2 separate regions of the Homo sapiens genome follow, and region 2 is linked to region 1. The links come from fine-mapping of genetic effects on gene expression. Tissue or cell type: left ventricle. Region 1 holds a variant in brackets; the other region holds the start of a gene. All regions are shown on one strand. Distances are between the middles of the regions.

The links. PIP is the estimated chance that this variant, and not a neighbour inherited with it, causes the effect.
Region 2: CASTOR2 starts here. The variant in region 1 is fine-mapped to the expression of CASTOR2 in left ventricle (GTEx, PIP 0.92).

The regions. Positions count from the first base shown.
Region 1 is chr7:74,988,593-74,993,737 of GRCh38, forward strand. The region is part of intron 1 of CASTOR2 (cytosolic arginine sensor for mTORC1 subunit 2); the gene reads left to right. Among named protein-coding and RNA genes, the nearest start is that of CASTOR2, 26 kb to the left of the region's middle. The variant C/A (reference allele first, on the strand shown) is at 2,834.
Region 2 is chr7:74,962,511-74,967,655 of GRCh38, forward strand. CASTOR2 (cytosolic arginine sensor for mTORC1 subunit 2) reads left to right here and starts at 2,195. Exons shown (of 9, transcript NM_001145064.3): 1 at 2,195-2,588. The coding sequence starts at 2,476. RefSeq lists a silencer at 1,933-2,042.

The DNA.
Region 1 (5,145 bases):
GGCCCACGCTCCTTTTTTTTGGTGGACCTCAGGCATGCAGAATTTGATGACTCAGAATTTTTGGTTCGTGACGTACTTATTGATCCTGCTTTTACTTTATGTTTGTTTATCATTTGAATAACACTGCCCCCCACAGCGACCATGACAGTGATGGTAACTGCTGTCTGCCTACATTTATCTTTCCCTTGATTTTTGCAAAGGCTTTCATCCCATTTATATGTATGGAAAAGATACCTGGCAGCCTGCGATCTTCTGAGGCATGCTTTTTTTTTTTTTCATTCCACATTGCATTTCAAAATGCAGAAGATATTCTGTGTTTCTATTACTGTAGAATATTAGGGCATTCAGCCATAACACTGGAGGGAATTTTTCTTTTTTTTTTTTTTGAGACGGAGTCTTGCTCTGTCACCCAGGCTGGAGTGCAGTGGCGCCATCTCGGCTCACTGCAAGCTCCGCCTCCCAGGTTCATGCCATTCTCCTGCCTCAGCCTCCTGAGTAGCTGGGACTACAGGCGCCCGCCACCATGCCCGGCTAATTTTTTTGTATTTTTACAAAATTTTACGGGGTTTCACCGTGTTAGCCAGGATGGTCTCAATCTCCTGACCTCGTGATTCGCCCATCTCGGCCTCCGAAAGTGCTGGGATTACAGGCGTGAGCCACCACGCCTGGCCTTTTTTTTTTTTTTGAGACAGGATCTTGCTTTGCCCAGGCTGGAATGCAGTAGTGCAGTTATAGCTCACTGCAGCCTGGACCTCCTGGGCTCAAGCAGTCCTCCTGCCTCAGCCTCCCAAATAGCTGGGACTACAGGAGCATGCCACCATGCCTGGGTAATTTTTGTTTTGTTTTTGAGATGGAGTCTCGCTCTGTCACCCAGGCTGGAGTGCAGTGGCGCAATCATAGCTCACCACAGCCTCTACCACCCAGGCTCGAGCAATCCTCCCAACTCAGCCACCTGAGTAGCTGAGACTAACCACTGTGTCCGCCTATTTTTTTTTTTTTTTTCTGTAGAGATGGGATCTCACTATGTTGCCCAGGCTGGTCTTGAACTCCCGACTTCAAGCGATCCTCCCACCCCAGCCTCCCAGAATGTTGGGTATGGGTATGAATCACTGCACCCAGCCTGGATTAATCTCAAAAATAATTTATTGAGCAAAATAAACCAGGCAGAAAATAGGACATAATGTGTGTGTTTCCATGGATTTGAAGCACAAAACAGACACAGTGAATCCACGGCACTAGAGACTAGAGCAGTGGCTGCCTCCAGTTGTTGGGAAAGGAGCACGGAACACTTTCTGCAATGATGGGAATGTCCAGTATACTTATCAGGGTGCTGGTTAAATGGGGGATATACACTTGCCAAAAGTCATCTAATTGCCCACCTGAAAATCTGTACATTTTGTTATAGTAAGTTATGCCGCAATTGTAAACGCTGAGTTTGGGGTTAAAAAAAAATACACATCTATAAGAAACCATGACCCAAGCTCAGATTTTATCTCATTAAAAACATGTTTTGGTGCCGGGTGCGGTGGCTCACTCCTGTCATCCCAGCACTTTGGGAGGCCGAGGCGGGCAGATCACAAGGTCAGGAGATGGAGACCATCCTGGCTAACACAGTGAAACCCCGTCTCTACTAAAAATACAAAAAATTAGCCGGGCATGGTAGTGGTTGCCTGTAGTCCCAGCTACTCGGGAGGCTGAGGCAGGAGAATGGAGTGAACCCGGGAGGTGGAGCTTGCAGTGAGCCGAGATTGCGCCACTGCACTCCAGCCTGGATGGCGAGACTCTATCTCAAAAAAAAAAAACAAAAACAAAAAACAACAACAACAACAAAAAAACATGTTTTGGCTAGGTGCAGTGGCTTATACCTGTAATCCCAGCAAATTTGGCAGACCAAGGCAGGAAGATCTCTTGAGCCAGGAGTTCAGGACCAGCTTGTGCAACATAGTGAGACCCTGGTCTCTACAAAAAAATAAAAAATTAGGCTAGGTGCGGTGGCTCACGCCCATAATCCTAGCACTTTGGGAGGCCAAGGCGGGTGGATCGCTTGAGGTCAGGAGTTTGAGACCAGCCTGGCCAACATGGCAAAATCCCATCTCTACTGAAAGTACAAAAATTAGCCAGGTGTGGTGGTGGGTGCTTGTAATCCCAGCTACTCGGGAGGCTGAGGCAGGAGAATCACTTGAATGCGGGAGGCAGAGGTTGCAGGGAGCTGAGATCGTGCCACTGTACTCCAGCCTGGGTGACAGAGTGAGACCCAGTCTCAGAAATAAATAATAAAATAAGAAATTAGTTGGGTGTGGTGGCACACGCCTATAGTCCCAGCATAAATAAAATAAGAAATTAGTTGGGTGTGGCGGCATGCACCTGTAGTCCCAGCTACTCGGGCAGGAGGATCACGTAAGCCCAGGAGTTAGAGGCTGCAGTGAACTGTGATTGGTGCCATTGCACTCCAGCCTGGGTGACAGAGCAAGACCCTGTCTGGAAAAAAAAAAAAAAGGAAAAGAAAAAGAAAATGCCCTCGCACCTAACCACGAGCCACACTATAGTTGGGCGAGCTGGAAGGTGTGAGCATCTGTAGGTCCTCAGCCCATGAAGGTGCCCTGCCTGCCTGGTAGTGGGAGACGCAGTGGCCTTTATCACATTCTCCATAACTGGATATGAGGGAAGCATGGGACCGTGATCCCTGGAGGGACTGCAGGGATTGCCCACGCTAGTCATCTCACTGTACAGCTGGAGAAACTGAAGCCGGGACAAGGAGTGGGCCAAGGTTCCATAGTGAGCAGGGGATGCCCTGTCTGCCTGGCACACCACCCTCCTGTCCAGCCCCCAGTGC[C/A]CCTACCCACCCCACCCCAGGCCAGGAGCAGCCCCTGGCACCCAAGACAGGTGCAGAGTCAATCAGCAAATACTACAAGGCTCGCCCAGAACTGGGAGCTGGGGTAGCAGTGACAAAGCCTCCTTGGTCTCTGCCCACTCAGCAGCCCAGGCCAGGGTGGAGTTGGTAAACTTCAGCAGTGATCTAATGGCCAGACACCTCCCTAAGTAGGCACTGACGGTTGGAGGGGAGGTGTGGGTCGTGTTGAGGAGGGGACGTAGTGGAGCATGGTTCGTGAAGGTGTCAACCCTAAGACCTGAAGGCTGGGGAGTGGAATGAGGGTCCCGGGGGAGGATATGGCACACTAAGGAACGAGGAGGGGCCCAGCAGTGGTCACATGGGGGCTGGACAGAAACAGCCCAAATCATGGAGCTGGAAGCCATCCTGGGGCCCTTGGTATTATCGTGGAGACAGTGGGAGCCATGGGAGGTGCTTGACCCAAGGAGTGAGGTCATCACATTTGTGCTTTGAGAAGTGCCTTTGCCTCTACTGTGCAGCGTGGATGGACAGGGTCTCAGGAGACCCAGGAAGAGGCTTGGAAGATGACAGCAGGGATGAAAAAGGCTGGATTTGAGGTCCCCAAGGGGTCAATCGAAGAGGGCTTGGTGAAGGGCAGGCTGGGGGCATGGTGAATCGAGTGGCACACAGCAGGTAGACACCAGGAAGAGTCTGGGTGGGGCTCAGGGGGATGGGTCACTGCTGGAGGTGAAAGGTCTTCCCAGTTCTGGTCCTGTCTCGTGCAAAGTGTGACCTCTGGCAGATCCCATCCCTTCTCTGATCCTGGGTTTTTGTCTAAAGATGATCTATTCCATGCTAAAAGTCTTTCCCCTTAAGATGCTAATCAAGGAACTGTAGGGCCCTGTATGGTGGCTCAATCCTGTAATCCTAACTCTTCGGGAGGCAAAGGTGGGAGGATGGCTTGAGGCCAGGAATTCAAGACCAGCCTGAGCAACATCGTGAGACCCTGTCTCTACACGAAAAGATTTTTTTTTTAAGACGGAGTCTTGCTCTGTCACCCAGGCTGGAGTGCAGTGGCATGATCTCGGCTCACTGCAACCTCTGCCTCCTGGGTTCGAGCGATTCTTCTGCCTCAGCCTCCAGAGTAGCTGGGACTACAGGTGCAGGCCACCATGCCCAGCTATTTTTTGTATTTTTAGTAGAGACGGGGTTTCACCACATTGGCCAGGCTAGTCTCGAACTCCTGACCTCGTGATCTGCCCACCTCAGCCTCCCAAAGTGCTGGGATTACAGGCGTGAGCCACTGTGCCCGGCCTCAAGATTTTTTTAAATCAGCCTGGTATGGTGGTGCATGCTTGTAGTCCCAGCTACTTGGGAGGCTGAGGCAGGAGGATTGCTTGAGCCCAGGAGTGCAAGGCTGCAGTGAGCTATGATCGCACCACTGCACTCCAGCCTGGGGGAAAGAGTGGGACACTGTTTCTTAAAAAACAGAAAAGGGCCAGGTGTGGTGACTCAGGCCTGTAATCCCAGCACTTTGGGAGGCCGAGGCAGGTGGATCATGAGGTCAAGAGATCAAGACTATCCTGGCCAACATGGTGAAACTCCATCTCTTCTAAAAAATACAAAAATTAGCTGGGTGTGGTGGCACGCGCCTGTAGTCCCAGCTACTCGGGAGGCTGAGGCAGGAGAATGGCGTGAACCCAGGAGGGGGATGTTGCATGAGCAGAGATCGCGTGACTGCACTCCAGCCTGGCAACAGAGCAAGACTCCATCTCAAAAAGAGAAAAAGAAAAAGGAAGGCACATAGAGCTTCTAGAAGTCATCTACCCCCAGGATGGAATTAATTGCTCCAGAAAGAAGTGAGTTCCCCATCCCTAGGTGTATGCAAATGCAGGCTGGGCCAGTCTCTGTTCAGGATTCCAGTACTGGAGGAGGCAACAAAAATAGCTTTCCAGACTTGATTCTGGGCTTCTCCGTGCCCCACCTCTACATCTGGGTGGTTCCCTGAAGGTCCTCCTTTGTCTTTTTTTTTTTTTTTTTTTTTTTGAGAGCGAGTCTCACTGTGTCACCCAGGCTGGAGTGCAGTGGTGTGATCTCTGCTCACTGCAACATCCACCTCCTGGGTTCAAGTGATTCTCCTGCTTCAGCCTCTGGAGTAGCTGAGATTACAGGCACCTGCTACCACACCCAGCTAATGTTTGTATTTTTAGTAGAGACAGGGTTTCACCATGTTGCCCAGGCTGGTCTCGAACTCCTGGTCTCAAGTGATCCACCCGCCTCTGCCTCCCAAAGTGCTGGGATTGCAGGTGTGAGCC
Region 2 (5,145 bases), 26 kb before region 1:
ATTTCTGGATCTCTAGATTCTAAAGGCATAGATAGGTGCATTGATGCATTCCACAAATATTGAATGAGTGTCTCTCATAGGCCAGTCACTATTGCTGACAATGGGAACACAGCGGAGAACAGACAAAAATCACTGCCTTTGTGGAGTTGAGATTGTGTAGGGGAGAGACAGATAAGCTTTAAAAAAAAAATGCTGAGGCTGGAGGATCACTTGAGGCTGGGAGTTCGAGACTAGCCTGAACAACATAGTGAGACACCCCTCTCTACAAAAAGTAAAAAAAAAGGCCGGGTGTGGTGGCTCACGCCTGTAATCCCAGCAATTTGGGAGGCCGAGGCGGGCGGATCATGAGGTCAGGAGATCGAGACCATCCTGGCTAACACAGTGAAACCCTGTCTCTATTAAAAATACAAAAAAATTAGCCGGGTGTGGTGGCGGGCACCTGTAGTCCCAGCTACTCGGGAGGCTGAGGCAGGAGAATGGCGTGAACCTCGGAGGGGGAGGTTGCAGTGAGCCGAGATCGTGCCACTGCACTTCAGCCTGGGTGATGGAGCAAGATTCCGACTCAAAAAAAAAAAAAAAAAAGGCCAGGCATGGTGGCTTATTGGCTTATGCCTGTAATCCCAGCAGTTTGGGAGGCCGAAGTGGGTGGATCACCTGAGGTCAGGAGTTCAAGACCAGCCTAGGCAACATTGCGAAAAATACAAATATTAGCCAGCCGTGGTGGCCAGCACCTGTAATCCCAGCTAGCTGGGAGGCCAAGGCACGAGAATCGCTGAACCAAGGGGGAGGAGGTTGCAGTAAGCCAAGATCGCGCCATGGCACTCTAGCCTGGGCGACAGAGCAAGACTCCATCTCGGGGGGGAAAAAAGAAAGTTAAAAAAAAAAAAAAATTAGCCAGGCATAACTGTAGTCCCAACTGCTGGGGAAGCTGGGGTGGGAGGATCTTTTAAGCCCAGGAGTTCGAGGCTGTAGTGAGCTATGATTGCGCCCCTGCACTCCATCCTGGCCAACAGAGCAAGACCCTGTCTCTAAAAAATAAATAAATAAAAGAAAAAGAGTAAAAGAAAATAAAGTGGGAGGGGGATATGCATGCTCTAAGATCTATCTACCACAGATTACAGGCTTTTCACCCTTTTGTGGAAATGACAAAACCTAGTATGTTCCTACCTAACAGAGGAGGGCTGAGGGAAGGTGAGGGAGCACAACTGCAATTTTCCCCTGAAAGAGAGTTCTCAGCCTGCCCTGGCAGATAGATCTCACCCATCGCGTCCCCAGATTACTCTGCCAAAGGTGGAAGCACCAATCACTTTAACCCAGAACATTTCAAAACCAGACAGCCATGAAGGAGGAACCTCTGTGGTCCCGGCGCGTGGGCCCTGGGGTTGGAAGTGCCTCAGACGCACTTTACATTTTCCCCGAATTCACCCTTCGCAGTCCCCATCACCCCCTCTCCAGTGGGATAAATGGCCACCTCATTAGCTCTGCACACATGACCCTCCCGACCTGACTCCTGGTGACTATGCCTGCCTTATCTCTTTTCTCTCCTCCCTCACATTTTCCGCTGCAACAAAGCCAAACACAGCACCGTGGGGGCTTTCACGCTTCTGTGCCCTAGGACACGCTGTTCCTGCAGCCTGGAAGGCCTCTGTCCTCCATCCGCGCGCCCTCACTCTCTTGCTACGAACTCCCATTCATCCTTCAAAACCCAGCCTGAGTGTCCCCTCCCCCGGGTCACCCCCTTTGACCTGTCAATCCCCTCCCTCCGGGTCCCCAGCAAGCTTTTCGGTTTGGCTTCTCTGCACTCTCATGACCGATTGCCCTACATCTTGGCGCTCCCAGACTCGGGCCTTCTCCAGCACCGGAGTCGTCTGGTTTGCTCGCTTTACACTCCAAGCACCTAGTACCGAGCCTGACTGGGTGCCAGAGGGCGCGCCTAGGCTCAGGCTGGCTCCACCCGCCCCGTGCCTCCCCTCGGCCTTCCCCTTAGTCCTGAGGGTGCCCGCGCTCCTGCATTTCCCGTGCACCGGGCTGCCGGTAGCTCCGGCCGCCCAGCCCCCGCGGCAGCAACAGCAGCAACAGCACCGGGGGAGCCCCCCCCCAGGCGGACTACAAGTCCCGGCAGGCCGCGCGCGGGCCGCGCATGCGCAGCGGGGACCGGCGTTTGAGTGGCAAGTTGTTTGTTACAGCGAACACCAGCTGCTCCCCGCGCCGGGCGCCGCGCGCCGCTGCTCCGCCGCTCGGCCCCTCGGCTGCTGCTCCGCCGGCGCTGCCTCCCTCGCCCCGCGGCTCCCCCTTGCAACTTGGCGGGCCTCCTCCCTTTTGTCCGGCCCGGCCCGGCCGCCGCCGCCCCCCGCGCCCGGCGCCGAGCTCCCGGGTCTCCGGGCCGGCTGTCGGTGCCGGCAGGGCGCGGAGGGGGCGGGGGCCGCGGCTCGTCCCCCCGCGGATGAGCCGCCGCGGACGGGGCGCGGGCGGACGATGGAACTCCACATCCTGGAGCACCGGCTGCAAGTTGCCAGCGTCGCCAAGGAGAGTATCCCGCTGTTCACCTACGGCCTGATCAAACTTGCCTTCCTGTCCTCCAAGACCAGGTAAGCGCGCGGGGACGCGGCGCCGGCCGGGGACAGACAAAGGGGGCGCACCCCGGGCCGCTGTCCTCGCCGCCGCGCCTCGGAAAACAACTTCGGGCCCCGGGAGCGCCCCCGCCCCGCCCCCGCCGCCGCTTCGCTCGCGTCTGACAAAGCCGGAGCCGCAGGGTCCTGGCTCCCGGACCCCTCGCAACCTTCCACCCCCCGGTGCGCCACCCCCCACCTCTGTCGTCCCCCCCATCTCCCACCCCCTCCCCCATCGCAGCCCCCTCCCCGAAATCCGGGGGGCTGGGGCGGCTGCAGTGACGGATCCGTGAATGGATGAAGGAACGAACGAATGAATGAATGAAAAACAGGTGTGGGGACGAGGCCGTGGAAAAAACAAACGCCCCCATCCCCCCATCCCTCGGTTGGGCCGGCCCCGTCGCCACGGCGGGGGGAGGGATTCCGCTGAGCGCGGTTACCCAGAGCAGAAAATCATAAAATCATTAGTGGGTGTTTATCTCAAGGTGCCTACGAGGCTTGCTGCGGACGGCCTGGAATTGCGGGGGGGAAACGGGGGGTGGGCGAGGGCCAGGGAGGGGCTGCAGAGGACGTGATTCTTTCTCCTTGGGGTCCTGGAAAGGGGGTGGGGGGGTGTTTTGCCCAACCGTAGAAGGGGAGGAGCAGGCATGTTTATGCATCTGCCTTGAGGCTGGGCTTGGATGCTGCAGGGGGAAAAATAGTTGAAGGCCTTGGAAGGTAAAAGAGGGAATCACACACACACACACACACACACACACACACACTCTCTCTCTCTCTCTCTCTCTCTCTCTCTCACTTGGATTTTCCCTATGCCAGGTAAGGGTTTGACATTGTGAGCCCCGGTGGGTGCTTGCATTAGGGTTTTGTTGTTGTTGTTTAAGGAGCCTGAGCCGAGGGGAGTGTGAGTGCCAGCTAGCTGCTGTAACTTAAGTCTCATTTGCCCACCATTGTGACTGTTAAAAAGGAATGATAAAGTTGTTACTGGTTGGTTTTTCGCGGTTTGGGGCGGTGGTGGCTCTCCCTCACTGCAAAATGAATGAATACTTTTCGGGTCAAGGTTAGCGTGAAAATGACAGCCCCCTTAGGCTGCCCCCTTTGGCACTGAGCTCTAGGGACACAGGGAAATAATTCCAGCCTGTTATCTGCCTGTGAAAAGTTCTTGCTTGGAAATCTCACTTTGATGTGTGTGTCTGAGCCGGGTGCTCAGTCCGGCTATTGTTTGCGAGATGGAGCCAGACCTGCCGGTGGCATCTTGTTTACTTTCTTCTCCGGCTGCTCAGTAGGGGATGGAGATTTGAAATAGTCGCCAAGCCTCTGCCACGGAGCCTGTGCTCCCCGTTGATTGCAAAGGGTAATGATTAAACAGGTCATTTGAAAACAAAAGCCAACAGCTCGGATTCTGAACCGCGCCCCCACCCCTCACACAAAGCCCCCTCTGGCTGTTGACACCTTCAGATCCTGCTTCTGCCTGCCCTCTGCCCCCCACTCCCTAGCCGGGCTTGACGTTCCAAAGCTTGGAGGTAACAGAACAGCCTTGTTTTTCCTAGCCTTGGCCCTCAGCCCTGGGCAGCCCCCTGGCTGATTTCTCGGCCACCATTCAAATGAGAATGATGACTCAGGCTGCGGCTGTGCACAGGGCCTGGGTGCTGGAAGCGGGGGCATTTGGGGGCTTCTTAGAAAGGCAGCAAAGGGCAGGGTCCCTCAGCCCCTTTCCCTTGGTGGAGAGACTGGCCTTCTTCCAGCCCCCAACTCAGGATCCCCTTTGGGTACTCATGGATAGGCGTGTCTCTGGGGTCAAGCCCCCCTGCTGGCCTCTGGGAACACAAGAAGACCTGTCCCTCAGTGGGTCCCCCTTCCTCCCTCCTGCAGAAAGCAGCCTGTCCTGTCCCAGGCCCAGGTGACCCAGCTGACTAGTCCAGTTTCAAGATGACTCAGAGGCCAAAGGCCATCGCTGTGTTTCCATGGTCCGGCCTCAGAAGGTGCGGAACATTTGTCAAATGCCTGAGGACCTGCCACCCCATGCACTCTGAGCCCAGATCATGGCTTCAGGTCATGTGTGACCACAGCCCCCTGCCTGCCTGGCTGAGGCGAAGTCTGTCTCCTCTGGCTCACACTTCGTCCGTCTGTAAAATAGAGATAGCACTATTTGGCCCCCTCATGGACACAGAACTGCTGTGTGGATGGTGTGGGACGATTGTGGGAAATGGCTTTTTAGCAAGTGTTAATGGGTCGCAGCCTGCCGACATAGCATTTAAACTGTTTTCAATAATCAGCCATCCAGGTAGAACCCCTTAGATTGTTCCTGCAATCCCTGCCCCCAGGTGGTGACCCATAGCTCTGTCACTTCCCTCTCCAAAACCTAAGTTTAGCCCAGACTAGCACAGCATGCCCTGAGGGTCCCTGTGCCACCTGTTTACTTTTTTTTTTTTTTTTTTTTTTTTTTGAGACTGAGTTTTGCTCTTGTCCGGGCTGGAGTGCAATGGCGCCATCTCGGCTCACTGCAGCCTCCACCTCCTGGGTTCAAGTGATTCTCCTG